2 linked regions of the Homo sapiens genome follow. The protein of the gene in region 2 interacts with the protein of the main gene of each other region in a pairwise test. Each region holds a gene or a part of one and is shown on either strand. Other genes may lie near its edges.

Evidence for each region.
Region 1: the proteins of SPANXA1 (region 2) and EML2 interact in a two-hybrid assay, tested with the Homo sapiens proteins (one large-scale study listed by BioGRID).

Annotation. Positions count from the first base shown.
Region 1 is NC_000019.10:45,615,272-45,619,089, reverse strand, and holds part of EML2 (echinoderm microtubule-associated protein-like 2), read left to right. Parts: coding exon 1-30; intron 31-1,392; coding exon 1,393-1,460; intron 1,461-2,236; coding exon 2,237-2,325; intron 2,326-2,531; coding exon 2,532-2,629; intron 2,630-3,200; coding exon 3,201-3,288; intron 3,289-3,818. UniProt on the Homo sapiens protein: Tubulin binding protein that inhibits microtubule nucleation and growth, resulting in shorter microtubules.
Region 2 is NC_000023.11:141,583,111-141,586,275, reverse strand, and holds SPANXA1 (sperm protein associated with the nucleus on the X chromosome A), read left to right. Parts: upstream 1-1,537; 5' UTR 1,538-1,597; coding exon 1,598-1,669; intron 1,670-2,316; coding exon 2,317-2,538; 3' UTR 2,539-2,602; downstream 2,603-3,165.

The sequences.
Region 1 (3,818 bases), on a different chromosome or scaffold from region 2:
CACCAGCCCCTGTGGAGCAGGATCATCGAGGTAAGGGGCCCGGGGACTGGAAAAGCACCATTCTAACAGAACTACCTTTCCCCCTGTGTCAGGGCTCAGCACATTAGACTGAAACCAAACAAGGTCTTTTTTTTTTTTTCTTCGAGGTGGAGTCTCGCTCTGTCACCCAGGCTGGAGGGCAATGGCACGATCTCGGCTCACTGCAACCTCCGCCTCCCGGGTTCAAGTGATTCTTCTGCCTCAGCCTCCCGAGTAGCTGGGATTACAGGTGCACACCACCATGTCCAGCTAATTTATGTATCTTTAATAGAGACAGGGTTTCACCATGTTGGTCAGGCTGGTCTCGAACTCCTGACCTCGTGATCCGCCCGCCTCGGCCTCTCAAAGTGCTGGGATTACAGATGCCAGCCACCAAGCCTGGCCCAAACAAGGTCTTTTTAAGCAGGGTGGGGGTTTCATCTAGGGAACTGGGTGCTTAGAAGCTCTCTCAGAAGGGTTGGAGGAGTAGGTTCTTGACTGGAAGGGAGCCCAGGACGACACCGAACCATCCTGTCAGGGGTGCCGCCATGAGGAGGGGGGAGTCAGGAGCCGCTGAGTTCAAGGAAGGTGTGACCGCTGCAACAGTCAAGTGTAGAGCTACACTGTCCCATAGGGTAACCACTGGCCACACATGGCTATTCACAATTAATTAAAATGTAAACAGAATAAAAATTTCAGCTGGGTGTGGTGGCTGACACCTGTAATCCCAGCACTTGGGAGGCTGAGGCAGGTAGATTGTGTGAATCCAGGAGTTTGAGACCAGCCTGGGCAACATGGCAAAACCCCATCTTTACAAAAAATGAAAAAAAAAAAACAAAAATTAGCCGGGCGTGGTGGTGGGCGCCTGTAATGTCAGCTACTTGGGAGGCTGAGCCAGGAGAATCGCTTGAACCCAGGAGGCGGAGGTTGTAGTGAGCTGAGACCGTGCCACTGCACTCCAGCCTGGGCAACAGAGTGAAACTCCATCTCAAAAAAATAAATAAAAATTTAAAAAATAAAAAACAAAAATAAAGTCTTAAAATTCTAGATGCCCTTTGTCCCAGCATTCCCACATCTAGGAAATTATCTAAAGAAGTCGTCTTGGATGAATAAAGCTGTGGGAATTTAGAAGAGGAGTAAGGAGGGATCCCGGGACAGGAGTGACAGGAGGAATGGTTTCTGTTCAGGTTAACATGCTACAGAAATGTAAAGAGGAATGGCTGCCATGGTGTCTGGGGTGGGGGTGTCCCAAAGGGCAGCAGAGGGAGGGGAGAGCCCTCATGCAAAGATTAGACTTGGCCCTGAGGCAAGAGAATGTCCAGATGGACATGGGACCCCAGCTCTGAGCCCTGCCTCTTCTCTCTCCCTTCTCAGGACCCTGCCCGCTCAGCCGGCTTCCACCCCAGTGGCTCTGTCCTGGCTGTGGGTACAGTGACTGGCAGGTAAAGCTGAGGAGAGCATTTCGGGAGGCCTTCTCTGCTCCCTGGGGAACTGGCCCTTCTTCCCTCTTTCCTACTTTCCCAAATCCCACTATTTACCGAGCCCTGATCCCTCAATATTCCTCTGGCTCACTGCAGCCTCTGCCTCCCAGGTTCAAGCGATTTGCCTGCCTCAGCCTCCCGAGTAGCTGGGATTACAGGCGCCCACCACTATGCCTGGCTAATTTTTTTTTATTTTTAGTAGAGACGGGGTTTCACCATGTTGGCCAGGCTGGTCTCGAACTCCTGACCTCAAGTGATTCACCTGCCTCAGCCTCTCAAAGTGCTAGGATTACAGGCGTGAGCCACCGCCACTGTACCTGGCCTTGTTTTGTTTTGTTTTTTGGGGGGACAGAGTCTTGCTCTGTCGCCCAGACTGGAGTCCGGTGGCGCGATCTCAGCTCACTGCAACCTCTGCCTCCCGGGTTCAAGCAATTCTCGTGCCTCAGCCTCCTAAGTAGCTGGGATTACAGGCACGTGCCACCACGCCTGGCTAATTTTTGTATTTTTAGTAGAGACGGGGTTTTGCTATGTTGACCAGGCTGATTTCGAACTCTTGACCTCAAGTGATCCACCCGCCTCGGCCTCCCAGCGTGCTGGGATTATAGGCCTGAGCCACCGTGCCCAGCCCAGGTCACTTCTGGGGTCCCTCTGATCCCTCCCTTAGACCCCACAGATTGCGGCCTCTCTCTGTCAGATCAGCTCACCCCTCCTCCCCCCACCACGCCCTCTCCTTCAAGATGGCTGCTGCTGGACACGGAGACCCATGACCTGGTGGCTATCCACACAGACGGCAATGAACAGATCTCAGTGGTCAGCTTCTCCCCAGGTAAGCGGCAGGCCTGGGACACCCAAGCGGCAGGGCCAGGGGACAGAGGCTCAGAGCTCTTGGCAGGGGGAGGGGTGGAGCCTGCGAAGCGAGGCCTAGGAGGGATGCAGTGGGGATGGAGCTGGGGACTGTTGAGGGGGCTGAGTCTGGGCGAGGAGGGGATGGAGCCTGGGTGCCTCCTCATAGCCCCCCTCCCCCTCCCCCAGACGGGGCGTACCTGGCCGTGGGCTCCCACGACAACTTGGTGTACGTGTACACGGTGGACCAGGGCGGCCGCAAGGTCAGCCGCCTGGGCAAGTGCTCGGTGAGTGGGCAGTGGCCCCCAGCCCGCGCCGCCACCCCGCCCAGGGGGTGCAAAATTAACCAATTTTCTACCTCAAGGGAGCGCAGCTTCAACACTCAACTGATTCTGCCCTGATCAGAGCAAGGAGTCTTGGCCACGTCCACACATTCACCACCTCGTGTGTTCTAAGCCCGCCCCTTTGTGTAGCCCCGCCCCCACGTGCTAAGCCCATCTGTGTAGCCCCGCCCCTCACGTTCCGAGACCGCCCCTCACGTTCCGAGACCGCCCCTCTGTGTAGCCCCGCCCCTCAACATTCAAAGCCAGCTCCTCCGTGTCTAGCCCTGCCCACCTGTTCTAAACTCCCATTGTGTTCTAAGTGCTTTTTGTCTAGCCCTGCCCATCACAGTCTGGCCCCGCCCACAGTATTCTGGCCCTGCCCCCATACTCCAAAGGCCTGTGTATCCTTCCTTTAGTCCCCTTGTGTTCTCGCCCTACCTCTGTATTTGACTTCCACTTTCCTGATTTAATCCTGTCCCCCTCTCCTTGGTTCCGCCCTCTGCAGCTCTAACACCATCCCTTCCCTCCCCCGCAGGGCCATTCCAGTTTTATCACCCACCTGGATTGGGCCCAGGACAGCAGCTGCTTTGTCACCAACTCCGGGGACTATGAGATTCTGTACTGTGAGTTCTCCGGGACCCAGAGACATTACTTCCTCCGTCTCATTTGCAGACTTCCCTGAGTTCTGGGAGGGGAGGGAGGGGCTTCAAGCCTCGCTCCCTTGGTATTCAAGGCTGGTTCTGATTTGGAATTTAGGGACCGCTGGCTTCTCATTTTCTCCCTGGTATACCCCACTTTTAGTCAACTCCTCCCCTTTCCGGTCGGATGGGTAGGATGCAGGTTTCTTTTTTTACATTTTTAAATTTTTAATTATTATTATTATTATTATTATTATTATTATTATTTTGAGACGGAGTCTTGCTCTGTCCCCCAGGCTGGAGTGCAGTGGCGCGATCTCGGCTCACTGCAAGCTCCGCCTCCCAGGTTCAAGTGATTCTTCTGCCTCAGCCTCCTGAGTAGCTGGGATTACAGGAGCACACCACCATGCCCGGCTAATATTTGTATTTGTATTTTTTTTTTTTTGAGATGGGAGTTTCCCTCTTGTCTCCTAGGCTGGAGTGCAATGGCACGATGTCGGCTCACTGCAGCCTCC
Region 2 (3,165 bases):
GAATTTCAGGTTGTCCTGAGTAAGAACATTAAGGTTAGATAAAGGGTCGTTTTTTTGTTCGTTTGTTTGTTTTTGTTTTTTTGGCAATAACTCAGGATTTAGCTATTTTCATTAACCAAACAATATTAAATTCCTTACTTACTAAATCTTACATAAACAAAGATAATTCTTATTTGAGCTGCATTCATAGCTTTAGAACCCTCATGCCAAATGTTGACATCTAGCAGAGATAAATAATGTATGTTGAGAATTCCAAAGCCATTTCTAATTCAATTTCACTAAAATTTTTAAAACCAGCTTGTTTATTGAAGATTTGCTTAAGTCACATGAACTTGAAAAAGCATTTGGCTTAAAGTCTATTTTTCCGAAAAGCATTAGATTTAAGTGCCTTTGTTAAGCCAATTAATTAGAGCTTTTTTCTACATTTTAAGTAGTGAAATGTCATATCCATGACACATAAATACATAGATGTATTAGACATGTAGATAGAAGTAGATCTTATAAATTCCTAAGGCCTTTATTTTTTCCTCGTATTTTAGATTTACAATTTCTTCATAACCTATTTTATTGCCCTAGGCAATTGTCAGCTAGATAGCCCTAAATGTGCATATTAAAGGAACCCTTAGGTAAAAAAAATCAGATAGTGAAATTTGCATCTCAAAGCACCGAGAGAAAGAGTCTGGTGATGTTAGAGGGAGATTGAAGATGGATGCCAAATCAAACACAAAATTGTAGAAATATAGGATTGTATAAGGAGACCAGTTGTATTTAGATAGGGACTACCTGTCTTTTAACTGGATCTCTGAGCTCTGGGCAGAGCCCACACTGAATCCTAGGTCTCCAAAAAGGGAGAATTACTATGAGGCTACACCAAGTGACGGTTTTACAGTGTACTTTTTTTTTTTTTTTTAACAAAGACATTTCTAAGTGTCCAAGCTACTTTCTTCCTTAAAAATCCAAGAATACTCTCTGTTCTAATAACTGTTTTAGTCAAAAACTTAGAATTACCATTCATCTCAGCAGTAGCCCAAAAGTAAATGGTCTTCGAGGTGCATGTGAAGGAACTGTAGGAGGGAAATGGGATAATTCACATCTCCGCCAATAAATAAATGTAGCCACACTAGCGTGGGGGATTTGAGGTGAGACATCGAAAATACTAAGTCATGGTGAGGGCTGGAAGACAAAAGAATGAATCACTTAATAGGAATGGCTGTGGGGAAGGGCTTGAAGGAATCATCCTCTGACTTCCATGTGAACCGTGAACATTAAACATGGAGAAATGAGGAGCGGCGGCAGATCGGTTTGGGATGCATCTTCAGGGGATGCTGAAACAACAGCAGCATTTGGTTTGCTCTACACCCCTGTCACCCCTCGCCCGCAAGCCCAGGGAGTGGTCAGCAGTGGGGCTTTGTGATGTGAAGCCACCCTAGGGCTGCCATTGGCTGGGACACTGCCTGTATGATCAAACAAAGCTCAAGGGTGTGGCTTTGCCTTGTCACCAGGAGGGTATACATAGGGAGGGCAAGAGCTCCGGGCCACTGAGAAGATTCAAAACCTACAAAAGCCTGCCACTGACATTGAAGAACCAATATATACAATGGACAAACAATCCAGTGCCGGCGGGGTGAAGAGGAGCGTCCCCTGTGATTCCAACGAGGCCAACGAGATGGTAAGACTGTTAGGTTCTGAAGTGAAGGCGAGGGTGAAAGAAAGACACACAGAGCGGGGGCGGCTCAAACAACAACACAGGAATATTGCAGACCATTGTGGAAGTGGGGGGCCCGCTTAATGCCAGAGCCCACCGCCGCTTACAGGCTGGGGTGCTTGTAGGTAGGGGTGGGAGGGGCCTGGGCAGTATGGCTTGCTGCCCGGCAGGATATTGATAAGATGTTCTTATGATCAGGTGGTTTGGCCCTTTTTCTGGTGGAATATCATTGTGGTGTTCCTTAGAACGCTGCCAAGCAAGATATGATAGGGATGTTTCTTCAGTTGGGCCTTTGTCCGCCTTGCGGACAGGTGGTTAGGCAGGATGTTTCTCACGGCCTGAACCCCCATGGGATGTTTCACTTTGACCAAGGTCTGCAAAATAGCAAAGAACTGACAAAATGGTGCAGTTTGGACTCACAGGTGACCCTACCCACGCTCCTCTTCTTCTTCCCCATAGATCCCTACTCTGTGCTTCAACCTTCTTCTTCTCTGGATCAAACCCCTTCCTCAACCCGCATTCCTTCTTCTCATGAAGTCCCCTTGCTATCCAGTCTCTATCCTGTTCACCCAAAATAATGTCCTCCTGGCCTCTCCCTGCTTTCTTAACAGATGCCGGAGACCCCAACTGGGGACTCAGACCCGCAACCTGCTCCTAAAAAAATGAAAACATCTGAGTCCTCGACCATACTAGTGGTTCGCTACAGGAGGAACTTTAAAAGAACATCTCCAGAGGAACTGCTGAATGACCACGCCCGAGAGAACAGAATCAACCCCCTCCAAATGGAGGAGGAGGAATTCATGGAAATAATGGTTGAAATACCTGCAAAGTAGCAAGAAGCTACATCTCTCAACCTTGGGCAATGAAAATAAAGTTTGAGAAGCTGATGGCTGTGTATATCTCTGCCTGTTTTCTGATGGTGGCGGGGGAAGGGAAGGGAAGGGAAGAGGTAGGCATTTGAGAAGGGAGGGATATGAGGTCCTGTAGGGTTGGTGGACAGACCCACAGGTTGACAGTAAGCCAGACATTGTAAATAAGGCCTGGGGGAGGACTGATTCCTAAAGAAAATTTTCTTCTTAAAATTTTATCTCACAGGAAGTGGAGATGTGTATATGTTCACGCAACTGTACCCGGCAGCACATAGTTCTGCTGAATGGACATATCAAAGGTATTCCCATCCCCTTTCCATTTGATATTTTCCTAGGCTAGAAATAGATGCTTTATAAAGAGCAAATGTTCTGTAAAACACAAAGCACAATACAAAAGAAGATAGTAGATGTAGGAGTAAGTAAACGGCAGGAAAGCATTGCTTGTGATGAAATGATTGAAAAGCCAATTCTAAAACAAAATGTTCAATGCATCTTAAATATTTGTTAGTGTTTTAATGACCTCAGCAGTCTTTAATCAAGATAAGTATACTTTAGAAATGTGTTGATATCCGCAAAGGGTGAATATTCAAA